Linked DNA regions of Homo sapiens. The protein of the gene in region 5 purifies or fractionates together with the protein of the main gene of each other region. This does not show direct contact. Each region holds a gene or a part of one and is shown on either strand. Other genes may lie near its edges. The genes, in order: ATF1, HSP90B1, COL14A1, DNAJC13, OGN and SORL1.

Region 1 (4,805 bases), on a different chromosome or scaffold from region 5:
ATGGCATGAATCTGGGAGCCGAAGCTTGCAGTAAGCTGAGATTGCGCCACTGCACTCCAGCCTGGGCAACAGAGTGAGACTCTGTCTCAAAAAAAAAAATTTTTTTAACTGTAAAACAGCCTCAAGGCAGCCCCTACAGGAGGTATTCCAGAAGAAGGCATTGTTATCATAGGAGATAACAGCTCCCTGTGTGTTATTGCCCCTAAAGACCTTCCAGTGGGATAAGGTATGGAGGTGGAAGACAATGATATTGATGATCCTGACCCTAGGCTAGTTAGCCTAGGCTAATGTTGGTGTTGGTGTCTTAATTTTTAACAAAAAAGTTCAAAAAGTAGAAAAGTTATATTTGGTTTTTGTGATTTTTTTTTTTAAGACAAGGTCTCACTGTGTCACCCACACTGGAGTGCAGTGGCACAATCTTGGCTTACTGCAACCTCTGCCTCCAGGGCTCAAGTGATCCTCCCAGCTCGGCCTCCCAAGTAGCTGAGACTACAGATGTATACCACCACACCCAGCTAATTTTTTTTTTTTTTCTTGTAGAGGTGGGGTTTTGCCATGTTGCTTAGGCTGGTCTCAGACCTGGGCTCAAGTGATCCATCCACCTGCCTCAGCCTCCCAAAGTGCTGGGATTACAGGCATGAACCACTGCACCCAGCCCCCAAAAATTTAAAATTAGCTAGTACAACCACTATGAAAACCAGTATGGAGACTTCTCAAAAAACGAAAAATAGAAATCTACCCAAAGGAAAAGAAATCAATATATCAGAGGGATACCTGTACTCATAAGTTTACTTGCAGCACTATTCACGCACAATAGCTAATAGAATCAACTATGTGTCCATCAGTGGATAAATGGATAAGAAAGAATTAAATCATGTCATTTGCAGCAACATGGATGGAATTGAAGGTCAGTATCTTAAGTGAAATAAGCCAGGCACAAAAAGAAAAAATATCACATTCTCACTTATATGTGGGAGCTAAAATATTTGAACACATGGAAGTAGAGAGTGGAAAAATAGGGCTGGGCGTGGTGGCTTATGCCTGTAATCCCAGCACTTTGGGAGGCCGAGGCGGGAGGATCACTTGAGCCTAGGAGTTCAATGCAAGCCTGGGCAACATACCCATTGCTACAAAAGATAAAAAATTAGCCAGGCATGGTGGCGTGTGCCTAAAATCCCAGCTACTCGGGAGGCTGAGGTGGGAGGATTGCTTGAGCCCAGGGGGTTGAGGCAGCATGATCGCACCACTGCACTTCAGCCTGGGCAACAGAGCAAGACCCTATCTCAAGAAAAAAGAGAGAATGGAAAAATAGGTAACAGAGACTGGGAACGGTGAGGGGCAAGGAGGAGGATGAAGAGAGTTAAAGGGTACAAACCCATACACAGTAAGATAAAAGGAATAAATTCAGTGTTTCATAGCAGAGTAGGATGACCACCCTTAACAAAAACCTATTAATACTCAGGTGATGGACACCCTGAATCCCCTGACTTGATCGCTACACATTATATACATGTAACAGATTTTCTCATGTGCTCCATAAATATGCACAGAAACATTTTAATGGAAAAAACCATACAGGCCAGGCGTGGTGGCTCACACGTGTAATCCCAGCATTTTCGGAGGCCAAGGCAGGAGGATCACTTGAGCCCAGGAGTTTGAGACCAGCCTGGGCAATATAGGGAGACCCCATCTCTAAAAAAAATTTAAAACATTAGCTAGATGTGGTAGAGGCAGGAGAATCACTTGAACCTGGAGGCAGAGGTTGCAGTGAGCCATGATCACGCCATTGTACTTCAGCCTGGGCAACAGAGCAAGACTCTTGTCTCAAAAATAAAACAAACAAAAAAAAACACACAAGTAGTTAATAATCATATAAAAGACTACTCAGCCTTATTAGTAATCAAAGAAATACACATTAATGCTACACATTTAGATACCCTTTATACCCACCCAATTGGCAAAAATTTTAAAGTCTAACCAAGAGTTGGCAAGGATTTGGAACAATGGTCAGGAATTCATAGATACTACTATAGGAGTGTAAATTGATGCAGCCATTTTGGAAATTAGGCCTTATCTTGTACAGTTGACGTGGGTATACTCTGTGACCCAGCTGTTTTAGTCTGTGTGACTGAGAGGAACTTGGAGGAAGTATGTATAAGAATTTTCATAGCAGCAAAAAATCAGGAAACAACCTCAAGATTCATTGATAACAGAATAGGTACATATTGAGCCTAAACATAAAAATGGGGGGAAAAAAGAATAGGTACATAAATTGTGACTGTATTTATAGAATGGAATGTTTATTTGTAATGACTGAATGAATAATCATTTCAACATGAATAAATCTTAGAAAAATTGAATGAAAAAACAAGTTGCAACAGAATACACAAAGTATGATATTTTATAATTTTAGAAAATAAATGATAGCAGTTTTAGGGTCATATACGTATATACTACAACTATAAAAATAAGAAATGAGATGTCACGTAGCAAAAATTATAAAGTGGTAATACTGTCTGTCATTGGGCATATAAGGAAAAGGGTACCTCACATACATTACTGAGGGAAGTACGGAGTTTTATGGTATCTACTTGCCCCAACATTTCTACTTGTATGTGACAAAAGATACCATAAAGAAACTTAAAAATAAGTCTGTTAACTGGGAAAAATATTTGCAACTTTTATATAAAGAGAAAGAATTACGAGATGTATAGGTTATATAAAGATTTATTTCTGTAAATAAGAGACCTAACAGAAGGAAACCGGTCTGTGAAAGATGGCCTTGTAAACATGAAATTATTCCAAACTTTGTGCATAATGAGGGAAATGTTAAAGCAGTGAGGTTCGCTTTTTGTCAGCCGCTAGACTGACAACCATTTTAAAATGTTCATAACAGGCACTCTCATGTACTGCCCCTGGGAATGTAAATGGTACAAATACTCTGGAGGACATTCTGGCATTTTTTCCCTTTTTTCTTTCTGGTTTGACTCTGGGATTTTTTTCCTTCCTTTTTTCCCCCCTTATTTCTCTGTACTTCAATGAATATAAATTGGCACTATCTCTTGACTTTAAGTGAATATAGCTTGTGATCCTTCAAGAAATACATGTGTAGAAATACACGTAAAGAATGGAGGCTGAGTGGGTGGCTCATGCCCATAATCCCGACACCGTGACCAGGAGTGAGACCAGCCTAGGCAACATACTGAGACCTCATCTCTACAAAAATAAAATTAGCTGGTGTGGTGGTGTACACCTGTAGTCCCAGCTACTTGAGAGGCTGAAGTGGGGATATCTTGAGTCCAGGAGGTCAAGGTTGCAATGAGCTGTGATTGTGCCACTGCACTCAGCCTGGTTGACAGAGTGAGACCCTGTCTCAAAACAAAAGAAGAAAAAAGAAAAAGAATGTTTACTGGAAACCACTTAAAACAAACAAACAAACAGAGCTTAAAGGTAAAAATAAAGTCTTTTTGTGAGGGGAAAGATTTTGTACAGTCCTTTTAAAGATGTGTACTAAAAAGCAAGTTGCAAATAGTATCTACATATATAGCATAAAAATCTTAAAATAGTACTGTTTCTTTCTTTCTTTCTTTTTCTGAGACAGAGTCTTGCTCTGTTGCCCAGGGTGGAGTGCAGTGGCGCGATCTTGGCTCACTGCAACCTCCACCTCCCAGCTTCAAGTGATCCTCCTGGGTCAGACTCCCAAGTAGCTGGGATTACAGGCATGTGCCACCACAGCTAATTTTTGTATTTTTAGTAGAGATGAGGTTTTGCCATGTTGGCCAGGCTGGTCTCGAACTCCTGACCTCAGGTGATCTGCCCGCCTTGGCCTCTTAAAGTGCTGGGATTACAGGCATGAGCCACCATGCCTGGCCAATACTTCCGATTTCTATATGTATATAAACTTACATATGACTTCACAGAAATGTTTTAAGAGGACATGCACAGAACTGAGTATTTGCTCAAGCATTGTTTGTAATTTGAACTTAAATAAAAGAAGTCATGTGTCAGAAGTTAACCAGAGGACCCATAATTTCACTCTTTGGTATTTATTCAAGAGAAATGAAACCTTTCTACAAAAAGACTGGCACAAAAACATGCCTATGCAGCTAACCCTAGAAACATCGCAAGAGACTGGATACACAAATGGTGGTTATATTCATACAGTGAACTATGTCCAGCAGTGTGAAGGAACAAACCCCCATGCAGCAACATGGATGAACCTCAGATGGGCTGAGTGAAGGGACACCAGAGTACATAGTGTATGACACTCTTACATGAGGTTCTAGAATAGGAAAAAAACTAATCTCTGGTGATAAAAATCAAAACGATAGTTGCTTGGAAGGGGGCTGACCAGGAAGGGGCATGAGGGAACTTTCTGGGACAGTGGGAATGTTCTGTTGTCTTGACAGAGGTGTGGGTTATACAGGTATACACAATTGCCAAAACTGACTGAATTCTACACTTAAGATCTATGTATTCTCTGTGTGTAGATGATACTTTAAAGAGAAAAAAAGGTGACCACGGAAAATTACTGAAGAACATTTACCATTTAAAGAATGTGAAGTTTTTTCTAACATTGTTTTTTTAATGCTCATATTTAGAGAAGCTGCTCGAGAATGTCGCAGAAAGAAGAAAGAATATGTGAAATGCCTGGAAAACCGAGTTGCAGTCCTGGAAAATCAAAATAAAACTCTAATAGAAGAGTTAAAAACTTTGAAGGATCTTTATTCCAATAAAAGTGTTTGATTCCTAAGAAAGAAAATATTTTTGTGGACATGCATAAAAATTAAATGGATTTCCTAGTG
Region 2 (3,500 bases), on a different chromosome or scaffold from region 5:
AACTTTATCAATGCTAGTTTTGCATCCTTAAGAGTTACAAGAAGGGATCAATAAAAGAAGAAGAAAAAAAAAAACAGGCAAGGAAACATAAATTTAGTAATTATTCCCAGGCATAGGATCTCACAATAAGTGTTTGATGTCATAAGCAAGCTCTTTAAAGATTATATTAAAAGCCACTTAACAACATGATTTCATGTTTTACGGGTTTTGTGGTGGAAATCACACATCTACCTATGTAGGTGGTTCTTAATCTTTTTTTGTCACACAAAACCCTTGGCAAGCTGGTGAAGGCTACAGATGCCTTCTCAAAATAATTTTTTTAAAAAAATCACATATTACAAAATACACAGGAATAAAAAGGAAACCAATTGTGTTTAAACAGCCATAAAACTGTTTCAAACATTCTTGATTTTGTAGTTTCACTATTCACTAAGAGCTAGGACTAATTTTAATAACTGCTGCAATTTTGAAGTAGTGATGAGTATAATAATTCAACTTAAGTAAAAATGGTGTGTTCTGGAAACCAATTACTCTCAAAGACCATCTCTACTGAGGTGTCAATCTCAAAGGTTCATAAATGTGATTTTAATTGTGACTAGGTCAATAAACCAGAAGTAGACATATTATAGTTGGCCTAAAGGTCTTTTTTTGAATTTTCTCACTGGGAAAAAATGGGAATGGACCATCTCATATTCATGGTCACATACCATATACAATTAAACTAAGAGGGTGATATTTTGTCTATTCATTAATAACCAGAAACTAGGGAATTATAAATATTTACCTTTGAAAATGATTTGTAGAAAGCTTTGTATTCATCTTCTTCTACTTCTTTTGATGGTCTCTGCCATATTGGTTTGATATCATTCATAAGTTCCCAGTCCCAGACAGTTTTTTCAACCTGAAGTTATTATAGTATTTGATTAGTCTCTCTCAGCACTCACCAAGGTTATCCTAGCAGTAACCATGGCTTCAGTAGATTTCAAAAGACTATGTAAAGACCCAGAGGACTGGTGTGGTGGCTCACGCCTGTAATCCTAGCACTTTGGGAGGTTAGGGTAGGAGAACTGTTTGAGCCTAGGAGTTCAAGACCAGTCCAGGCAACATAGCAAGACCTCCAACTATACAAAAAATTTTTAAAACTTAGCCAGTCATGGTGGCGTGTGTCTGTGGTCCTAGCTACTTGGGAGGCTGAGGTGAAAGGACTGCTTAAGCCTAGGAGTTCAAGGATGAAGGGAGCTATGATCGTGCTACCACACTCCAGCCTGGGTGGCAGAGACTCTGTCTCCAAATTAAAGAAAAAAAAAAAAAGGGCACCAAAGGATACCTGTTATCTAGTAAGGTTTCTGCCAACTGTATCAAAAGCAAAGTATTTTTCTCAATATTTAATTCAAAAAGACAATTGTTAACTGATGAAAAGCCACTTAAGTTTTTCTTCATTGTTATTTTTTAACTAGCAAAAATGTTTCTTGAAAATATTTGTTTTGAGGTTAGAAGGAAATACATATTATATATTCCCATTTCATGACTTAAAGAAATCCAACATTTTACAAAAATATTTCTCAACCACCATGATCAATACTTCTTAGTCTGCTACCTAAGCAAGCCAGAGAACCATTTTTATGGTTAATCTCTGCATGATAAAAAGACAAAAGAGGACTCAGAAGGCTTTTTAAGATTTTAAAATTCCAAACATATAAGCCACCAGTCCTAGGCAATATATAAAAGTTAGAAAACTCTTCATAAAAATGACCTGGGTTTGATACTTAAAACTTTCTACAGGACAATGTATTCAACATACAAACAAAGGCCTTATTTTAAAAGCTGGCTCCATGGACTTAGCACCTGAACTGAAGCTGACTTCAAATCAGCCAGTGCATACTTAGGTTTTCCTGGTTTTGCCTATACATGTTAAACAATATCTTATGCAGGGAGATAAACCAGACTTACTTTTTTAGTCTTTGGTTTCTTTTCTTCTTCTTCTTCCTCTACTGCAGCTTCATCATCAGATTCTTCTTTCTCTTCTTTGGCTGCTTCTTCTTCCTCCATGGGCTCCTCAACAGTTTCAGTCTGTTGAAATAAGAGAATTATGGTTAAACTCATTTGTTTAACAATTCTGATTTTGTCTACAGAATATGATATAACATTACAGGTCAAAAAATAGGTTTTTGTAAGAAAACCCTGAGAGTATCCTTAACTAATAGACCACATTTTGCCTTCATTCTTTTTTTTTTTTTTTGAGACAGAGTCTTGCTTTGTCACCTAGGCTGGAGTGCAGTGGGGCGATCTTGGCTCACTGCAACCTCCGTCTCCCGGGTTCAAGCAATTCTCCTGCTTCAGCCTCCCGAGTAGCTGGGATTACAGGCGTGTGCTACCACACACCCAGCTAACATTTTTGTATTTTTAGTAGAGACAGGGTTTCGCCATGTTGGCCAGGCTGGTCTCGAACTCCTGACCTCAGGTGATCCACCTGTCTCGGCCTCCCAAAGTGCGGGGATTACAAGCATGAGCCACCGCGCCGGCCTGCCTTCATTCTTTTAGTGTTGAATATTTAAATACGTGCCAAGGTAATACATATAAGTTTTTAATCAATATAGATTTACCTTGCTGCTCCATACATAAATAGGAAAGTTTATGAACTGTGAATATTTTTTGACGAGATTTTTAATTGTATCCAATTCAAGGTAATCAGATGCTTCTTCTTTTAAGACAAGGCTGCAAGAAAAATTCGATGTTTAGAGACACCTAACATTTAGAAGATCTGATTATAAATTCATTTAAATACCATGGTAATAGCCAGCAGTTCAGTATAATCCAAGATGTCCTAATTATTCATGTTAACTCTCCATCACCAACAAGGGTTTGTGAGCTAAAATGTAACACATGTAGATACAGTAAAGAGAAGAATCTCCTCTACATTACCTCAAGTGGAGAATAACCTTAGTTTTAAGTAGAAAATTAAAATATTCCCAACCGTCTGAATAGATTGTTTTCATTTTTCAAGGTGAGAAAGCACTGAAATATTCTGGAGAGAAATGGAATCATGCACTCTCATAGCTCTTACTGTTATTCCAGAAACCTAATGATTATTGTAGATAACTATTCCTAATTAATGAAAACATTTTCCTTAAAAAAGCTAGAAAATTAATCTGGTTTATATTTATATCTGCACTATCCAAAATGGCAGCCACTGGGCACATGTGACTTATTTAAATAAAATGTACAGTTCAGTTCCAGTTATGCTGCCACATTCCAAGTACTCAACAGTCACATGTGGCTGGTGATCGCCAAAATGGAAAAGTGCAGATATAGAACATTTCTACTATTATATAAAATTCTACCGGGCAGTGCGGGGATTACAGGTGTGAGCCACTGTGCCCGGCCTAGAACCTACTCTTAAGCACAGTAGGTAGTCCATATCTTGATACTTGTGTTCCCAATTAAGTATGGGAAATGGTCTATCTATGGTTCCCTCCCTGTCTCAAAAGGCTCATTAGTTT
Region 3 (5,524 bases), on a different chromosome or scaffold from region 5:
ATAAAAAGAAAAAAATTTTAAATTTATTTACAATGACATCAAAAACATAAAATAGTTAGAAATTAATATGACATGCAAGGCCTCTATACTCTTCAGAATACCAAAATATAAAAGTGTATTACTGACAGAAATGAAAGAAAGCCTAAATAGAGCAGTGCACCATGTTCATGGGTTAAAAAAAAAAAAGTACTCTGTTAGAATGTCTTTAAGATAATCTATAGATTCAAAGCAATTTTAATCAAAATCTCAAAAAAGTCATGGACAAATATTCTCTAAGACAGTTTGCTAAAAGTTAAACTGCTGGTTATAAAGTATGCTTATTCCTTTTAAAAAGTATTAATGGGTTGGGCACAGGGCTCACACCTGTAATCCAGCACTTTGGGAGGCCAAGACAGGCAGATCACCTGAGGTTGGGAGTTCGAGACCAGCCTGACCAATATGGTGACACCCCATCTCTACTAAAAATACAAAAATTAGACAGGCTGTGGTGGTGCGCTTCTGTAATCCCAGCTATTCAGGAAGCTGAGGTGGGAGAATTAGTTGAACCTGGAAGGTGGAGGTTTCAGTGAGCCAAGATTGTGCCACTGCACTCCAGCCTGGACAACAGAGGGAGACACTGTCTCAAAAAGAAAAAAAAAAGTATTAATGCATATTGCCAAATTGGTCTCCAGAGAGATTATGCCAGTTTATATACCACCAAAAGTATATGTGTCTATTTTTCCATAAACTTGCTGGCTCTGATATTTACAAATTCTTTCATGTATGAAAAAATTGTAGTTCAACATATAACATCACCATGGCTAAAAGTATGACTGCACATCTTTCATTTACTTAAGCTGTCTTTTGTTCGGTGAACTCTCTAGCATATCCTTGGTCATTTTTCTATAGGATTGTTCATCTGTTTTTTGTTTGTTTGTTTGTTTTTTGTGATGGAATCTCACTTACTCTGTCACCCAGGCTGGAGTGCAGTGGTGCAATCTTGGCTCGCTGCAATTTCCACCTCCCAGGTTCAAGCAATTCTCATGCCTCAGCCTCCCAAATAGCTGGGATTACAGGCATGCACCACCATACCCAACTGTTTTTTGTATTTTTAGTAGAGACAGGGTTTCGCCATGTTGGCCAGGCTGGTCTCGAACTCCTGACCTCAAGTGATCTGACTTCCTCGGCCTCCCAAAGTGCTGGGATTACAAGCGTGAGCCACCACACTCAGCTAGGAGTGTTCATCTTTTTATGAGAAATTTTTGTATTTAATATGTGGCTCTTTTTCCATCATATATGATAAAACACGTTGCCCAATATTTATTTTTTTTCTTTTTTATCTCCTATGGTTTATGACATGCATATAAGTCTCTTTCTCCTTTGGAATTATAGCATTTTCCTATATTTTCTTTTAGTATTCTTACATTTTCAATTTTTAAATTGAAATCTTTGATCATCTAAAACTTATTTTGATGTAAATGAAAAAGTTTTAACTTTTATTCTCCATGTCTATCCAATTAGTCCAATACCACTTATAGAATAATTTACCTTTTGATCACAGGTTAACAATGCTATATTTTATTTTCGAATCTATCGATTTTCTATTTATGTGTGACTATTAAGTAATTGTAAATATCAAAACTTTATAATATGTTTTAATATTTTCTTTTAAGTTTTCTTTCTGATTATTTTTGACTAGGTACCAAAAACTCCTCAAAATTGGGATCATGTTAAATTAGTAGACCAATTTAGGTAGATCGACCTTTTTTATACAATAGTCCATCTTTACATCAAAAAAGAATATATTCTTTGTTTATTCAAGCCAGTCATCTTCATTTCTTCATGAGCACTTTAAAGAGTTATATAAATTTGACATTTTGAGTTTATTTCTACATATTATATACATATATGTTTTATTTCCTGTTAATGGATTTTTCTTAATCACTTTTAAACAAGTTGTTTATTAATTATAGTAAAGCAATTTTATTTTTATATTAATTTTGTAACCTACCTTGAATAGTTTAACATTTTTTCAAAGTCTTAAAGTTTGTAAAATTGATTTCCTTAATTTTTTCTGTAGATGATATCTTTCTTCTTACCTTCCAAATTTTATGTTTTTCATTTCTTTCCCTTTTCTTATTACTTTGGCTACTATCTCCAGAATATTTATCCTGGAAACTTTGTCTTGTTCTTATTTTTAATAGCAATGCTTCTTTGGCATGACTTTGATTTTGAAGACACATGGCTAGACAGACTGTTAGAGAAGACAAACACAAATATACTGATATAAATGTATCATGTTTAGTAAATTTCCATCTGTGTAAACTTTATTGAGCTATTAATCTGAAATAAAATGTTAAATTATTGTAGTAGTTATGAAGAATATCCTCTAACTTTTTTCTCTTAACTTTTTAACATGACAATTATATTAATCCATTTTCTAATACTAAACTTACCTGTAAAATTTGAGCCCAACTTGATCATTGTGAATTATTCTTTTGGGTTCTATTTACTAATATGCTATTCATATCAATAAGTACATCAATATTAGTGAAATTAATCTGTAGCTTTTCTTTTTTATTATGCTGTGTCAAGTTTTGATATCAGTATTATTTTTTCCAGTTTTATAAAAAATAACAGAATTTTTTCTTCTTTCTCTATACTGTACTTTGGAACAGTTATTTTTTTTTTTTTTATTTTTTTTTTGTTTGAGACGGAGTTTCGCTCTGTCGCCCAGGCTGGAGTGCAGTGGCGCGATCTCAACTCACTGCAAGCTCCGCCTCCCGGGTTCACGCCATTCTCCTGCCTCAGCCTCCTGTGTAGCTGGGACTACAGGCACGCGCCACCATGCCTGGCTAATTTTTGTATTTTTAGTAGAGACGGGGTTTCACCGTGTTAGCCAGGATGGTCTCGATCTCCTGACCTCGTGATCCGCCCGTCTCGGCCTCCCAAAGTGCTGGGATTACAGGCGTGAGCCACCGCGCCCGGCCGGAACAGTTATAATAGCACGGTATTTTTATTTTTTTACATTTTCATTAGCATTCAATTGCAAAACCATGGGGAGAGTTCAGTACTCTTGGAGAGGTTACTTTTTAACAACTTTTTCAACATGTTTGTGTCTAATGTTTTATTCATAATTCCTGTATAATAAAAAATCAGTTTTAGTAATTTGTACTTTGTTTAAAAATAACTCATTTCATATCATTAAAATAAGAATACTGCCCAAAACACAGCCTGGGTGACAGAACAAGACTCTGTTTCAAAGAGAAAAAAAAGAACGTTACCCAAAACAATATCCAGGTTCAATGTTATTGCTATCAAACTACCTACATCATTTTTCACAGAAATAGAAAAAAAAAAAATTCTAAACAAAACCAAAAAAGAGCCTCAATAGCCAAAGCAATTCTAAGCAAAAAGAACAAAATTGAAGGCATCAAATTATCCAACTTCAAACTCTACTACAAGGCTACAGTAACCAAAAAAGCATGGTACTGGTACAAAAACAAACACACAGAAAACGGAACAGGTTAGAAAACACAGAAATAAAGTCACACACCTACAACCACCTGATCTTTAACAATGTCAACAAAAACAAGCAATGGGGAAAGGACTACCTCTTCAATAAATGGTGTTGGAATAGCTGGCTAGCTGTATGCAGAAGAATGAAATGGGACTCCTACCTTTCACCATATATGAAAATTAACTCAAAATAGATTAAAGGCTTAAATGTAAGATCTAACATTATAAAAAAATCCTAGAAGAAAACCTAGCAAATATCGGCTGGGCACAGTGGCTCATGCCTGTAATCCCAGCACTTTGGGAGGCCAAAGCGGGTGGATCATGAGGTCAGGAGATCAAGACCATCCTGGCTAACACAGTGAAACCTCATCTCTACTAAAAATATAAAAAATTATCTGGGCATGGTGGGGCATATGCCTGTAATCCCAACTACTAGAGAGGCTGGGGCAGGAGAATCGCCTGAACCCAGGAGGCAGAGGTTGCAGTGAGCCGAGATAGCGCCACTGCACTCCAGCCTTGGTGACAGAGCAAGACTCTGTCTCAAAAAAAAAAAAAAAAAAAAAAAAAAGAAAGGAAGAAAAAAGGAAGAAAACCTAGCAAATACCATTCCAGACACAGGCTTTGGCAGTGAATCTATGACTAAGTCCTCAAATCAACTGCAACAGAAACAAAAATTGACAAGTGGGATCTAATTAAACTAAAGAGCTTCTGAATAGCAAAAGAAACTATCAAGAGAGTAAATAGACAATCTACAGAATAGGAGAAAGTATTTGCAAAGTATGGACCCAACAAAGGTCTGATATCCAGAATCTATAATGAACTTAAATTATTCAACAAGCAAAAAACAAATAACCCTATTAAAAATGTAGGCAAAGGGCATGAGCGGATATTTCTCAAAAGAAGACATACAAGCAGCCAACAAACATGAAAAAATGCTCCACATTGCTAATCATCAGAAAGATGCAAATCAAAATCACATTGAGATACTATCTCACACCAATCAGAATGGCTATCATTAAAAAGTCAAAAAAAAAAAAACAGATTTGCAGAGAAAAGGAAATGCTTATACACTGTTGGTAGGAATGTAAATTGGTTCAGCCACTGTGGAAAGCAGTTTGGAGATTTCACAAAGAACTTAAAAAACTACCGTTCAACTCAGTAATCCCACTAATGGATATATACGCAAAGGAATATAAATAATTCTACCAAAAAGACACATGCACTCCTATGTTCATCACAGCACTCTTCACAATAACAAAGATGTGAAATCAACCTAGATGCTCATCAATGGTGGACTGGATAAAGAAAATGTGGTACATATACACCATGGAATACTACACAGCCATAACAAAGAACAAAATCATGTCCTTTGCGGCAACATGGATGCAGCTGGAGGCCATTATCCTAAGTGAATTAACAGAGGAACAGAAAACCAAGTACCACATATTCTCACTTATAAGTAGGAGCTAAACAGTACACATGGACATAAAGATGAGAAAACAGACAGTGGGGACTAATAGCGAGGGAAGGAAAAAAAAGGGGGTGAGGGTTGAAGAACTACCTTTTGGGTACTATGCTCACTACCTGGGTGATGGGATCATTCATACCCTAAACTTCAGCATGACACATATACCTATGTCATAAACCTGTTCTTGTATCCCCAAACTTAAAATAAAAGTTGGAAAAAAAAGAATCCATTTCATCCAGGCTTTCTAATTTATTGGCATATTTTTATTTTAATTACCATTAAATTCTTTTAATTTTCTCCAAGTTAGTGATGTTTCCATTTTACATTTCTTTCCTTGTACACGTAGGCTTTCTTTATTTTGCTTTTTAAAAGACAAAAAGCTGAATAAAATGCACAGTGATTTTTGTTTAAGAGAGAAATATCAAATGGAAGGGGAAAGCAACAGTAAAGTAGGAATAAGGGAAGGAAGAAGAAAAGGGAAAATGATGAAGAGGAAGAAGATGAGGAGGCAGAGGAAACAAAGAAAAAATAAGGGGAAAAGAGAGAAAAGAAAACAGT
Region 4 (5,524 bases), on a different chromosome or scaffold from region 5:
TAAGAAACTGTACTAAAGCACTTGTGATCTGTTGGCTTACGTTTTCTTTCTTAGAGAATAGTTTATTGAACCCATATGTTTCCATTACCCAGCTTAATGCCATTCTTGTTTCACATATCTTCCATCCCTCACTCTCCTATCTCTAGTATTTTAATTGGCTTAACATTTAAGGTTGTAAGATAGGAAATTCATCAGGAGTTCATTAAGAGCTTTGTAGAGCGTGTCTTTCTATTTGACCTTTTGCTTATGCCAGCAAAATTCAGAATATAAAACGAGTACTGGCTGTTGAGTTCCATCCTCTATTTTGAAGTCCGTTGTGTAAACAGAATTGTGATATTCTGCTATGTTAATAAACTATACAAAATTACCTTAATCCAGAGGCCAGCAAACTTCTAAAATAAAGGTCCAGGGAGTAAATATATGAGTCTTTCAGGCTTCATACAGTCTCTGTTACATTTTCTTTTGTGACTTTTTTACAGCCCTTTAAAAATCTAAAAACCATTCTTAGCTCTTTGGCAGTACAAAGACCATGGTCAGTTTGGCCCATGGGTTGTAGTAGCTGTGGTTTGCCAACTACCCCAGCATTTATAGGAAATCTTAATGAGAAAGACTAGTGATCTAGTAAAGACATTCTGTTTAATTTTGGAACATTGTATATACCATTAAGCATTATTCACAAATTTCTGCTGGTTTGATTTCTATGTGTTAAATAAGGAATGCCTATGTGACTCTACTGGTTTTTTTGCTCTGTTGTGTTGTCTGCAGGTGTGTGGATACATAAGTAAATGCTACAGTGTGGCTGCTCAGTTTGAGGAATGCCGAGAGAAGATCACGGAAATGCCTAGCATCATCAAGGATCTCTGTCGGGTACTATATTTTGGCAAGGTAGGGTTAATCTTTAATGCTTTCTAGATACAGACAGCAAAGTGTCTTTTTGTCAACTAGCCAGTTCCTAATGTATAAGCACATTGTTTTCCCAAAGTTATTTGTAAGTAAAATTATTTGGATTTCTAAAAGCATTTTTCACAGAAGCCTTGCTGTAAATGGAGGCTTTGCTTCTAGGCTGGCCTACAAAGAAAAAGACTAAAGTGATACATCTAAAGGGAAGTGGGTTCCATCTGAACATTAGAATGAGTGGCAGGGAGAAAAGAGAAGCCTGTAATAAATAAGTCTTTTAAAAGCAAAAGGCCAGCCCGGTGTGGTGGCTCACGTCTGTAATCCTAGCACTTTGGCAAGCCGAGGTTGGCAGATCACTTGAGGTCAGGAGTTCAAGACCAGCCTGGCCAACACTGCAGAACCCTGTCTACAAAAAAATACAAAAATTAGCTGGGTATGATGGCATGCGCCTGTAATCCTAGGTATTCGGGAGGCTGAGTATTTGGCTGAAGAACAAGCAACTCCAGAAAATTCAACCATAAGGAAAAGTTTAGCTGGCATGCTGACACCCTATGTTTCTGTGGCTAGTGTGACTGAGATATATGCTTCAGAGGTAGCCTGTGCCACTACACTCCAGACTGGGCAAGAGAGTGAGACTCTGTCTCAAAAAAAAAAAAGAAAAAAAAACAGGGCCATGTAAAACCTGAAAACTAGAGAGTTCGGCACTGCTTGGTGGGAAAGGCTTTAGAGATCTGAGAACTTACTATTTCCTCCCAATCCAGACCTGCTGAGGAAGGTTGACTGTGGGTAGATGAGATAGATGACTGGGAGGGAGAGAGAAATGTCTTAAATAACTGGGCAGAGTGAGAATTGTCTTGAATAAAACAGGATCGAGATGCTGATCTAGTACTAAAGTATCAAGAAGTGAGGGAATTGATGAAAATATCTCCTCTACTATATCTACTTAATGTCCTTAGAAGTATTTGATTACAGAATAAAAAACTGACATAAATAAATCTTTTAACAACTGCACAAAATATGTCGTTACATTTAAGATCACTAGCGTGTAAGTTGCTATTGATGCCATGTCACTATTTTTAAAAATTAAAAATACAAGAAGTGAAACAGGAAACTATTCCCAAGTCTTCTGACATTAGCCTTAAAGGTAGTAATTCTGGTATCTCGTCATGAGGTCACTTTTAATTTTAGGCTTTAAAGGATGTAGGATTCAGATTTAAATTGGAATTGAAAATGTAAGAAGAGGTAAACATTTTACAAAATAACGTGGTTGGCTTGACATACATGCACAACCAGTTCCTCTTGGGAGCTTTTTTTTTTTTTTTTAACTCTGTAACAACTAATGCTCTCATTTTTATTCTCTCAGAGTATTCCCCGCGTAGCTGCTCTTGGGGTAGAATGTGTCAGTTCTTTTGCTGTGGATTTCTGGCTACAGACACACCTATTTCAGGCTGGAATTTTGTGGTATCTCCTTGGTTTTCTGTTTAATTATGACTACACACTAGAAGAGAGTGGCATTCAGAAAAGTGAAGAAACAAACCAGCAGGTAACTTTAACATTGCTTTAATATTGAATTTGAACCCAAACCTTAGGTTGGTGTTAAACTAATCCAAACCAAAGCTGCTATCCAGAGTCCCCAGAGATAAATTGTTTTTCAGGAAAATTAGGTTTTTTGCTTTTTAAACCTAATCACTTACTTACAAAACTTTTAGTTGTAATTGCTTATGCTTAAAGGATTCCAGGCAAGGGAATTTGCAATAGCATATACTGGACATAATTTAATAATTTCTTAATTACTCAGAGTCAACTTTATGATGGCAAAATTATGGTTGTGTAACACAGGACAATATAATGTTACCATCAGGCAGTTGAGGCTAGCTCCCCTAAACACTTGAGTACTTGTCTGATTTTTATAGATATTTTTCTGTCTCTTCTATGTGCTCTCATTTATTGCTCATATTGTAAATGTGTGCTTCTAGCAGGCAGGGCTGCCTACCTATCCCCTACTCCCCACATTACCACCAAATGTGCTTCTTCCAGTTGTCTGTGAGATATACTGCATTGGGTATAAGTTAGTACATAGATTCTCCTGGTCCTTCTTATAAATAAAAAACAAGCCCCAACACATAAACTTTCTGATGTTTACCTCAGTGGTAGGTACTCTTGTACCCTTTTGTTGGTTGACTTTTTACTCCTTAAATATGTTCCATATAGTGTGATTCTGTAAAATTATAGTATTACCTATGTAAGATAACAGATCTACTTTAACAACTTAATTTTTTTTATAACAGGAGGTAGCAAACAGCCTTGCCAAACTGAGTGTCCATGCTCTGAGTCGCCTTGGAGGGTATTTGGCTGAAGAACAAGCAACTCCAGAAAATCCAACCATAAGGAAAAGCTTAGCTGGCATGCTGACACCCTATGTTGCTAGAAAACTTGCTGTGGCTAGTGTGACTGAGGTATGTGCTTCACAGGTAGCCTGGGTTTTAATCAATAGTGCAAGATCCTTTAAGCAGTAAAGTAGTACAATAATATTGATCTAGGGAACCTAAAAATTAAGAACGTTCACATGTTTGTTCTCTCAAGCAAGAAATTCACTTTATAATGGATTGATGCTAATGATGTCAGTTCTACAAGTCCAGTTTTTGCAAGGGCAAATTAACTTTGTTTCTCAGCTGTGGAGCCTATCATAATTCTTACCAACCTTGAGTCACAAAGGGACAGGACGAGAGAGTGAAGTTGGAATGGTGTTTCACAATGGCAGACTACTGGGAGACAGGAGACCCAGAGTCTATTTCAAGCTATTTATTGTAAGCCATAGCTTATTCAGACACAGGGTTAAAATCCTGAAAGTAAATACATACATGCACATATACATGTATATGTATCTATGTACATACATAGATGCATTACAAAAATCAGTATGACATGATAGATCTCCCAACCTCTTTAACTTCTTTTGCAAGGATTATTGAGAAATAATCTGAGAATGTAGCACTAAAGAATTTGATAAACTATAGAAATCAGTTAAACAGGTTACTATTATCCTTTAATTATAAAAAAAAAAAGAGTACTAAAAGACATTAAAATAAATGAAGACACTAGATCCTATTTTTGGTATAACAAAATAAATGGATTGATAGATTTGTACCCATATGTTAACTGTAATTATTCCTGAATGGCATAATTATAGGCAGTTTTTCTTTTGTTTTCGCTAAGGATGAACTGTGACTTTTGTAAGTGAAAAAATCCTCAGGTTTCCAAAGTATTTTTACAACTTTTAAACAGGTTATTTGTTTTTAATCCAATGTGATTGAGTCCAATTTTCAGTGCTTGCCATGCTTTTCAGTTCCCATGTGTGAAAGGCAGGAGCTCTAGATGCTACTGGTTTTTTTTTTTTTTTTTAATTTTGTTTTTGTTTTTACTATTTTTCCTAAAACACTAGACGACCAGGGACCACTCCTGATGTTAGTTATTTTCCTGGACTTTTTGCTCACCAATGTGATACATTTTGCTGACTGAAAGCATTCTCTTCAGAAATGCCAACAAGTTTGGGATTAACCTTTATAGCCACCCCCACTAAAAATTTTTTATAGCATTTCAAAATTAAATGTTGGCATGAGCTCCAACTGGATTCAATAAAATGCTTAACTAGAAGTTAGCCTTTTGAAAACAAGGCTTGCATGTCTTTGTATAAGATGGAGGTCATAGTCCTCTGTTTTCCTATTAGCAGTAGACCTCTGTAAAAATAAAAGATTTTTATTCAGACATTTAAGGAATTGTGAAATATCTGTGTTTACATTTAAAATTGAGGAGAGCTCAACAATAGGAAAGCACACCAGATGCCTAAGCAGTCATAATCTATGCCTGCAGAAGGACTACACAGCCTTCAATATCAGGGTGTGGTCAGGAAAATCTGACTTTCTCCCCATAAATTTTATTTTCCTTCATACAGGTATGCTTCTTAAAGACTTAGGTTTTGTTTTCAAATACATGTACATAAAGGTATTATGTTGTGATTCTTTTCAAGCTTATAGTCACAGTGTGTTTATTAAGTACTTTCAAAATATTGAATTTCACCATGGCACAGCAGATTTTGAGAATGTTGAAGTCAGACTCAATTTCAAATCCTAGTTTCACCAGTTACCAGTTGTAAGATCTGGGACAAATAATTTAATGATTTGCAGTCTTAGTTTTTCTCAGCTGTAAAATGGATTATATCAATAAACTTGTTAGAATTATTGAGATACTTATTATTGAGGTCCATTATACTATAGGCAACTATTATAGTGTTTGGCCTATAATAGACATTTTTAATAAGTGATAATGTCAATAAGTTTTTTCACTAAATGTTATAAAACGGTAATATTGTCTCCTAGATTTTGAAGATGCTTAACAGCAACACAGAAAGTCCATATTTGATATGGAACAATTCTACAAGAGCAGAATTACTTGAATTTCTTGAATCCCAACAAGAAAACATGATTAAAAAAGTATGTTATTGTTTTATAAATTTCTTGGGTAATTTATTCTGATGGAATCTCTGGAAGTACAGCAGTATTGATTAGAACAGAAATCCACTACTTCTCACTTTAGTGTCAGTCAGTATGGCTTTCTGCCACCTAATATT
Region 5 (4,197 bases):
CCTGGCTCTTGGATCCCTTTTATTCCAGCTTACCTTACCTACCCTGCTTGGGCCACTGGGGTAGGCCATTAATTCTGGGGAAATTGGAGTAGATACAATTTAGATCCTGTCTTTCCTGTTCTTGGAGAGTACGTTTTCTGCCATTAGATTACAGTGTATTATGTGGTGTCCTATTCTTTCTGTCCTTTGTAAGCATGTTCCATTTTAGTCTCGGTCTTGACTCCTGACTCTGCCCTTCACCTTCATTCTCCCATCTGTGTGGTGGTTGAACTTCCTCCCTCTACTCTGTGTTTGCACATCAAGTCCTGTTGAATTCTACTCCACTCCACAAATATCTTAGACCCTGCATTTATATTAAGATAGAGAAACTTCTAAAGCCCTGTAAAGAGAAGAAGCAGAGAGAAAAATAATCTCTAAACTCTTTAGGGATCAGGGAATCTTAATAGATTCAAATCATCCAAGTGAGCCAATAGCCTATGTTATGATGGGACTTTTTTTTCTTTAACTTGAAGCTATAATTAGTAATACCTATCCTTTGTGTCTTAGTGATGGGCAAAAATAATGCTATCATATTAAAAGCATTAACTGAAAGAAAGAAACTGTGGTGTTAACATTTGCTCATTGTGTACCCCTGCAAAAAAGAAAAGAGAAAGTAGCAATTATAACTGGTCAATCTTATAAGTCTTTATCCTCCAATTTATAGTGGAGAAGAACTTCTGAAACAATCAGTATTGTTATATATTTGGCTGAATTTCTCATTTTCCAGTGTGTATGTGTATGTGTCATACATAGTGGGCAACAGATACTTAAGTGCTGTATTAACTTTTTCCTTACCCAGCATTCATTTCTGTGTGCCAAGAAAACCACAAGTAATTAGTTTGCCCATAAAGGTGGGGAATGAATGATGTGGTATAACGTCACCCTTGCAGTGTTAACTCAAAGACAGTTACAGTTACTTGGTACCAATTGATAGAGGGTCTAAACTGTTAAAATTGATTTAAAAAGAAAGTCCTATATTGACTAGGTTTTCAGTTTTTGGTACTGTATGTAGATGGCATATATAAATTATTGTGGAATGCTATTGATATCAAAATAACCAGTACTCTTCTATGTATTTTCTTCAAATTGTTTTCTATAATAATAACCTTAAGCTGATAATTCATCTTTATTTCTCCAAATACACATTTCCGCTAATTTATTTTTGAGGCAACACAACATTGCAAGTATAGGGCATTGTGTAACATTACTTAATATATAAATTGCAACTGGTGAGGGATCATCTTAAAGTCTAGTTTTCTTTAAGTTTTATTTTTTGGTTACTATAGATACTGTTTGGTTACCATAGATACCATTTATTAATTTGGAAAGCATACATACTCTAAAAATACAATCTTAGGGACAATTATTATGAATTCGTTTGAATCATTTAAAGTGATTTTCCCTTCCCCTTACCTTATCAGACACATTCAGGAAAAGCAAAAACATGCATTTAAATGGGCAGTATTTTAGAAGCTAAATTTAGAATAGAAATAAAGTACCTTAATATTTTTTCCATCCAGGTATTTATCCTCATAATCTTGGCTAAATATGGATTCTTCAAAATTATCTGTTCCATAATCATAGATAATGCGTGAGTCCTGCTGGGTTGGTGGTGCTGGCTTTATCAGAGGCACAAGCAGTAACAGGAGAAGTGTAGACTGCAGAGTCTTCATTTTAGCAAAAATCAAGGTGACTGGAAGTTAATAAACTAGTGGCCTGCTGACTGTGGGACAAAACTCTCTTTTTCCCTGGAAATAAAAATTCAGACCATCGAAGCAATATTTAAAAGCTTAGAGGATGTTTTGGCAGGGTGTGCGCAGTAAGGGCCAGAGAACAGTATTTAACCCTTAGTGATCTTTAATTAGATGCTAGCAGTTTTTATGTATCAGTGAACATTCTGAAAAATAGTTTTGGAAAATAGTTTTACTTCTCTATCAGAAATTCAAGAAAGATTGATAATTTTAAGTTTCTTAATAATTAAGTGCCTTCAGCAGACATACTAATATTTAATTGAAATATTCTTAGGATACCTGTAGTATAAATAGTTAAAATAAAGTCCCAAGATCCTGTCTCATGTGAGTTAAAAATATCATATTTCCACTTAGCTACTTTATAAGAACTCTTGATTTATATTGGTATGAACAGAAACAAGTTCCAAGAAAAGTTTTAAAACTTAAATTTAACATTATGAAAAGTAGTCATTAACACCTTTAGGTGGTACAGAATATAGGAAAAGCCATACGTTTTTAATTTTCTTAGTTTTGTAATTTTAATAGGTGATCATAATTTTTAGTTAATAGTATTGTATTTTTAATTTAAGCTAAGAAAACTGAAAGAATAGTATTGCAGGCTAGAGGAAATACCGAACTTTAATCAAAGAACTTTGAGGAATGTAATAGAAAGGATTCCTTTAGGCTCATCAATGGATTTTCTCTGGTGGGTACACATTTCAGACTTTTTCTTAAGTAACTTCAAACAGAATCACTCAAGAGTTGCTGATGCTGCATTATAGATGCCAGTTTGTCAAAAATCCAGAGGTTGAAAATGAAGAAGATAATGGATTTGTGACTTCTGCAGCACCCTATTCTTGCCTGCGTGGATGTTAAATTTATGCGATGATATACATAAGTACTTCTTAAAAATTAATTGAGGTAACTGAAACTTAAACCAGAGATGGCCTTTACATTTATTAAGACTATTAGATGAGTCAGTCGCACTTTAACAAACAATATTTAAAATAATATATGAAAAGTAAGCCTACCGTTGTAGCTGTTTTGAAGTTTTTTGTGGTTTTCCTCAATAGATGTTCATGTCTGTGCATTAGCCCCAAGTGGGAGGGTGAATGAGAAAAGCTATGTCTTGATTTCAAACTGCTGAGTAAAATTTCAGGGCCCAGCAGCTTTAAGAACAGTTTCCATGTGGTAGAGATCTTTGCCAGCATTCTTTCTCTAGGGTGAAATGCAGTGTGTTGTACTAGAGAACTGTGCTTAAGTTATTTGTTGTAACTGCTGCACTCAGTCTGCTTCAACTAATTTGACTATAAACTTGTGTGATTTTATTATTGTGTAATAAACATTCATGTTTTGGTGAATATTAGTTTATGAAAAATGATATAGTTTTAAAGTCATCCTTTTCATTTTGGTGATTTCCCAGGAGATCAAACAATCTGCTTTTTGAATGAAATAGGACACCAAATGACAACATAGTCCATGTTGTTAATTTTATGAGGATTAAAAATATTGCCCTAATACCATAATTAATATATAGCCAGTGTAATATATTTTTCCAGTGTAAAAATTAGTTTTAGCACAAATTATTTGATAGTTTTGTCATTTGGATTTTTTCTCCCCTTTATTTTAGTTACATATAAGAAAAACTGATGCATAAAAATTAGCTTTTTAAAAGTAAATTTGATTTATAGTTTTTGAGGTTGATAGTAAAAGATACTTTTGTTTGCTGAATGAAGGAAACTTTATAAAATTACTTTAATATTGAAATTGGCTTTTAAAAATTAAAGTGGCATTGTAGATACCATACAAGCAACTTTGAAGATTTTTTTAAAGAGTCACTTTTAAAAAATTCCTCCTTGGTGCTTTTACCAATCAAATTAACTTTTCTCCTTTAAGCTAAAAATTTAACAAATATGGATATATATTTTATTAAAATAGAAAATGAAAGAATAACAATTTGTTTTCTTTTCTAGACAAAATTGTTTTAGAACCTTTCAAATCAAAGCTTAAATAAACTAAGACTTGAGCACTGAAGTTTTTATTTGAATGTGAATTATCTTAAATTTAATTGTGATATTGTCTGGCTTGAGTTGATATAAATTGTTGGTTTTATGGCTTCAAGGATACAGTAAAACTTTTTTAAATACTTTGAAATATATAATAATGAAACAACAGACATTGATTTGTTTTGTATTGTGTGGCAAGTTAACAAGATATTGAGAAGTAAGCTGGATAGATACCATATGTCCAAATTTAGAGAATCTTAGAGATTCATAGTTTCATTAATGGTACACTTTGATGCTTTGTACTACAGAAAATTATTTTGTGAAGAACAACTTTCCTTGAAAAGTTATGACCAGTGAATACAATGTTATTAGCATTCACTCATTTAATAAAAGTTTATTGAGCGCCAATTCTGTGCCAGGAC
Region 6 (5,524 bases), on a different chromosome or scaffold from region 5:
ATTCTCTCCACCATTGCCCTCTTGCATTTTTTGTCTAGTTTCTACCTCTACGTTCCTCCTCTAGATATTTCCTAGTACTTGGTACTTAGGAGGAGGTCATCGTCATTAAAATATGAGGCATATCAGCAATTTTGTGGCTAAGTTTTTTTCTTTTTGGAGACAAGGTCTCACTCTGACACCCACACTGGAGTGCAGTGGAGGCGCAATCACTGCTCACCACCTCAGTCTTCCCAGGCTCAGGTGGTCCTCCCGCCTCAGCCTCTCGCATAGCTGAGACTATAGGTGTGTGCCACCATGCTCAGCTAGCTTTTTGTATTTTTGTACAGAAAGGGTTTTGCCGTGTTACCTAGGCTGGTCTTGAGCTACTGAGCTCAAGCAATCCACCTACTTCAGCCTCCCAAAATGTTGGGATTACAGGTGTGAGCCACTGCACCTGGCTTTGTGGCTAAGTTTTTAAGAAATTTACCAAATTTATGTGTCTAAGAGAGTTCCTCGCCTCCTCCCTACTTCAAAGTAGTTGACATGAGCAACTGTCTGCTTGAATGTCATCTTTTTTCATTGCCTAAAGTATCCTGAATATGCTAGCGCTAAACTCATTAAGGAGCCTGCTTTGAAGATGATCAAATTCATTTGGATATAGAAATTCTGTGATGTTACAAAATTAGTCTTATTTTTTGGTAGTCATGCCCACAGTACAGTTTTTGTTGTACAAGAAGCAGAGGCAGCAGGTGCTGTCATTGACAATTAAGATCTCAGCATGGAAGTCTCAGGGTCAGTGGTGACTCAGCCTGCCCAAGTGATTCTATCCTGCAGCCCTTATGAGCCACAAATTTACCACACACTCAACTGAGCCATGATGTGATGTGTGGACGGCACACCTTGCTTTTTGGAAGAAGAGGAAAAGTGTCTTTTCAATGTGACGACCAAGCTAGCAGCCTTTCTAGTGGATAGTCTCAATGCCGGCTGTGGAGTCGTTCTTGTCCTTGTTCTAAGCCCAGGAAAATTCCTCTGGTTGGCTGCTATGCAGATGGGTTTTAACCTTGAGTTGACTCTTTTTCTAGTGCCAGATGCCCCTCGAAATCTCCAGCTGTCACTCCCCAGGGAAGCAGAAGGTGTGATTGTAGGCCACTGGGCTCCTCCCATCCACACCCATGGCCTCATCCGTGAGTACATTGTAAGTACCTTCCATGAGTTGGCTGTATGTGTGTTGGGGGTGCTAGGAGATTTCTGGGTATTCTGTATGACGAGGGGGTTGATTTGGTTTAGCTTTGTAGGTGATGACCCATCCGTCAGAACATTTTGCTCCTCACCATCTTTTCTCTCCTCCAGCCTCCTTGCAAGATATTAGGATGCCCTGGACCTTTGGTTCCCTTTACTCACATTTTTTTTCTTCTCCCTTTAGGTAGAATACAGCAGGAGTGGTTCCAAGATGTGGGCCTCCCAGAGGGCTGCTAGTAACTTTACAGAAATCAAGAACTTATTGGTCAACACTCTATACACCGTCAGAGTGAGTGTCGTCATCCATTCCAGCCATCCATGCAGTCTTAGAACTGAGCGAAATTGCTGCTGTTTTGTGAGAACTCTCTACTCACCTTTGTGAGATGCATATTAGTAATCTGCAAAATACCCAACTTCTTGCCCTGGGACGGGGGAGCTCAGAGTTTCTTTCAGTCTCTTAAATGGACACCACAAAGAGCTTGACATCAGAGTTTCTGTAGATAACCGGGCGTTTATGGGAATGCCGCTTTCCCTGCTTTTAACTCCGGTATTCTGCTAGCTTTCCAGCTCCTATACTTTTGCAGTCAGCTCTTTCCTGCTTATCTTTAGCTGCAGGATGATGCAGAGCTATGATAAGTAGTCTTTCTAAACTGATTTTATGAGGTTCTTATGAAATATATTTTTAGTATTTTTAGCAGAAAGAGATAGATTTTGTGAACAACATGTTTGCTGAGACCATTAAGTGTGCACATTCATGACTCTCACACTGATAATTTTGTCAGTACCCTTTTTGTATATGTGTGTATTTATGAACACACCCCCCCATACACCTGCCCTTTAGAAGAACCTTGATATTTGTGGATCAATAGAAATTTTCTGATCTCAGGACTGTCATAATGCCCTTTACCCAAGCTCCTTCCCTTGGCTTTTTTGCCCTCTTATTTCAGATGCTGGGGCCTCTGAATATTCTGGATCACTCTGTATAAAATTTTTCCAGCCTCACTGCCAAAATCTCACCCCTTTAGCTCATTCAGTATTCTTACTGTATGGTGTATGGTGTATTGCCTTTATTTCATATTAATTCACCCTCTGATTTGAAAAGGTGGCTGCGGTGACTAGTCGTGGAATAGGAAACTGGAGCGATTCTAAATCCATTACCACCATAAAAGGAAAAGGTAAATGATCCCAGCATTTGCAGATTTAGAGAAAATATTATACAAACCCTTTCAAATGACTTTCAGTATGACCGGAAAATGGAGAAACGTAGTTTAGAAAAACATCACACAACTTTCTTCTCCCCAACACACGCACATTTTTGGGTGTCTCTGTAGTGCTTTAGATAGAGTCTTTTTGGGGTGACTGAGTGTCTTTTTCCTCCTAGTATTGAGCATTTCTTCTAATGCAGACATACAAAGGGATTTCCAAAGGCCATCATGCGCAGCCCTTTGTGAGTAGTCAAAATATCTAAAATAGAAGGAGTCCTTCCTTCTCACCAAAGCTGAAGATGATTTTGTGCATGTTCACTTACGGGGTTTTAAAGAAAGCACCATGCTGACTCTTGTTATTCTCCCAGTGGCACTGGCAAACTGTGTGTAGGTGGTTTTTTATCTTGTACTAGAGCTGATATTAGTAATAACTGATGGCTTGCCAAGGGCAGGACACTCTAGAGTGTTCACTGCTTTGCGTACATCAGCTCATCTAATTGAACAGTCAGAACAACTACAAGAAAGGATAAGGAACTGGAATGAGGTTATGTCACTTGTCCCAGGCCACACAATCAGTAAGTGACAGAGCTGGCCCTGGAACCTGATCTGCCTGACTCCAAAGCCTGTGCTCTTAACCACTGTGCTCCACGCTTCTCTCTGGGCTGAGACACATGCGGCCTACTGGACCGCCCTGCTTGCCGGGGGTGGCGGGCTCAGCATCTTGCACGAGTGCCTCATGAGGGCAGAGATCTGGTCTGTTTTTCTCTACTCTATCACGGGCATCTAGTAGAGACTAAGGAAATAATTGATGATTGAGTGAATCGAAGCAGTTAAATGAAGGGTTCTGGCATACTTTGGGAGATGGACTACAACTCATTTTCCAGAGTGGTTTTCCTGACCTTAGCCTTGACACTGGGGACTTGCATTTCTGGACTTCCAGGTATTAAAACCAGATGGACACTGTGGCATGCAATAGGACTGGAAGATTTTACTTTAACCTAAGCCTGTGAGGAATAGGCTCTGGGTCATGGAGAGTCACTATCTAGTCCCCTCTAAAATCTGGAGCCTTTGAGATCAGGGCCCAAGGCGGCCAAACGTAGTGCCACCAGATGGTCTTTGGAGCTGAATGCTTGCAGGTATTAGAGAAAGCCTGCTGAATTCACACTCTCCTAGAATTTTTATTGTTGTATCTCTTCTCTCTACAAAGTCTGTTTCAAAACACTGACCACACATACCAAGAAGGGATGTTGGAAGAGCAACCAAATACATGTACCTTGAATTCCGAAGGCACAAGTCACAACTGCATTTGAAAATCTCAGTGGATGGTTGGTTCTCTTTAACTTCTTTTCTGTGATTTTGATGAATCTCAGCTGCTTGCATATATTTGGGCTAGGATTTGTACAGAAGGCAGCTGTGTGCCACATCCAAAAAGTGTTTGTTGTAAAATATCTGTGACATAGTATCATAATAACGTTTTAAGATAAAGGACAAAGACAGCAGAGGCATCAGCCAGACGCGCCAGGTTAATTGGTGAATGTAGTGGATTAGTAATGACAATGAGAAAAGCCACCATTCCCTGAGCACTTCTTATACACTAAGCACCATGCTATTGTTGCTCGTGAATGGATCCCTTATTAATCCTTATGAATCCTATGAGATAAGTATCCTTATCCTCATTGTGTAGCTGAGGAAATGGGTTTGGAGTGGATTGTGACTTGTCCCTGGTTGCCATGATTATAATTCAAGTCAGCTTTACCATATGCAGCACTCGCACTGTTTTGCTCTGTGTTGGCCGCCTGAAGCTTCCAATATCCTTTCTTCTTCCGGTTATTGCATTTTCCTGAAGCCTAGTTTTATTACATGATTGATCATCTGGACAGACCTCTTCAGACTTTGACACATCTCTTTTGCCACCAAATCTTATCTGCTCCTTTGAGTCTCTCTTGCCCAGTCTATAGAAGGGGCATATGTGTGGAGAGTCTAATATGCAAGTTGTTGTTTAAATAATATTTTCTGATAATATTGATCCATTGAGCTCTTTTAGATCATGCTGGGCCAAGCACTGTCAGCCATCTGGTGGGAAGACCTTCCAGATGACAAGCATGGCGCTCATTGGTTGAACTGAGAGGGGTCTTTTCCTTGGCCACTTCTCCTTGCCCCCTCGACTCTTAGCTTGAGCTCCAGTCTTTTTGAGAGCACCAGTGGTTTCTAGTTGTTTAGTTGGCCATATGTGACGCTATATTGGAAAGGAAGAGAAAGAGAGTATCAGTTGAGTGCTAGGCATCACACATACATTATTTTAGTTAACCTTCCCAGCTCTGTGAAATGCAGATAACATCTCTAGGCTCCAGGAAGATCAGTAACTTGCCTAGGTTACACAGATGCCAGAACAGGAATTCGAACTCAAGTTTGCCAGCTTCCAGAGGCCACATTCTTTCCATTTTGCCACACGCACGTTTACCATTTACGATTTACTCCATTGTCAGCCTTCCGAAAGGACTTGAGATTGGTGGGACTTTGTTAGTGCCAATCAAGATGCCACTCGCAGTGAATGATCCCTGTTCCTTTAAGAACCAGGCTGAAGCTGGGCTGTTTTGGGACCTTTACAAAATGGAACTTTTCTGCCTGACCTAATTGCCAGGATAGCCGACTGAGCCAAGATAGTTTTGTGTTCACCAAGCAACTGTGGACCAACCTTAGCTTCAGGAAAACAGTGGTAAAAAAAGATCGATGAGGAACACTGCCAAAGAAATACCCTTTCTTCCCCGACTGAAAGATGGCTTTGTCCGTTGAGTTGAAAACTATTAAGTCCTGCCTTCCTCACTTTTCATCACGTGGCTTCTGTTTTTGAATTCCTTTTTGTTTTCAGTGATCCCACCACCAGATATCCACATTGACAGCTATGGTGAAAATTATCTAAGCTTCACCCTGACCATGGAGAGTGATATCAAGGTAATGTGGGAATTTCAAGCCAGCAGCTGGATGGGGCTTTATTTTGTATGGGAACTGAAAGGACATAGCACAGTAAGACTGGAAAAAAACAAAAAACAAAAAACAAAAAAAACGAACGGCTAGATCTAGTGAAGCTAAAATACCAGGAC

Evidence for each region.
Region 1: the proteins of OGN (region 5) and ATF1 purify together in Homo sapiens (co-immunoprecipitation; one large-scale study listed by IntAct). This does not show direct contact.
Region 2: the proteins of OGN (region 5) and HSP90B1 purify together in Homo sapiens (affinity purification with mass spectrometry; one large-scale study listed by BioGRID and IntAct). This does not show direct contact.
Region 3: the proteins of OGN (region 5) and COL14A1 purify together in Homo sapiens (affinity purification with mass spectrometry, with the first as the bait; one large-scale study listed by BioGRID). This does not show direct contact.
Region 4: the proteins of OGN (region 5) and DNAJC13 purify together in Homo sapiens (affinity purification with mass spectrometry, with the first as the bait; one large-scale study listed by BioGRID). This does not show direct contact.
Region 6: the proteins of OGN (region 5) and SORL1 purify together in Homo sapiens (affinity purification with mass spectrometry; one large-scale study listed by BioGRID and IntAct). This does not show direct contact.

What each region holds. Positions count from the first base shown.
Region 1 is NC_000012.12:50,815,034-50,819,838, forward strand, and holds part of ATF1 (cyclic AMP-dependent transcription factor ATF-1), read left to right. Parts: exon of another isoform or gene 1-907; intron 908-4,601; coding exon 4,602-4,746; 3' UTR 4,747-4,805.
Region 2 is NC_000012.12:103,936,910-103,940,409, reverse strand, and holds part of HSP90B1 (endoplasmin precursor), read right to left. Parts: intron 2,716-3,500; coding exon 2,604-2,715; intron 2,071-2,603; coding exon 1,951-2,070; intron 902-1,950; coding exon 785-901; intron 1-784.
Region 3 is NC_000008.11:120,130,381-120,135,904, reverse strand, and holds part of COL14A1 (collagen alpha-1(XIV) chain isoform 1 precursor), read right to left. Parts: intron 1-5,524. UniProt on the Homo sapiens protein: Plays an adhesive role by integrating collagen bundles. It is probably associated with the surface of interstitial collagen fibrils via COL1.
Region 4 is NC_000003.12:132,500,029-132,505,552, forward strand, and holds part of DNAJC13 (dnaJ homolog subfamily C member 13), read left to right. Parts: intron 1-765; coding exon 766-885; intron 886-2,260; coding exon 2,261-2,440; intron 2,441-3,185; coding exon 3,186-3,353; intron 3,354-5,273; coding exon 5,274-5,387; intron 5,388-5,524.
Region 5 is NC_000009.12:92,401,696-92,405,892, forward strand, and holds the start of OGN (mimecan isoform 2 precursor), read right to left. Parts: upstream 2,801-4,197; intron 2,070-2,800; exon of another isoform or gene 1,788-2,069; 5' UTR 1,713-1,787; coding exon 1,539-1,712; intron 1-1,538. UniProt on the Homo sapiens protein: Induces bone formation in conjunction with TGF-beta-1 or TGF-beta-2.
Region 6 is NC_000011.10:121,605,784-121,611,307, forward strand, and holds part of SORL1 (sortilin-related receptor preproprotein), read left to right. Parts: intron 1-1,061; coding exon 1,062-1,174; intron 1,175-1,402; coding exon 1,403-1,507; intron 1,508-2,320; coding exon 2,321-2,393; intron 2,394-5,292; coding exon 5,293-5,375; intron 5,376-5,524. UniProt on the Homo sapiens protein: Sorting receptor that directs several proteins to their correct location within the cell. Along with AP-1 complex, involved Golgi apparatus - endosome sorting.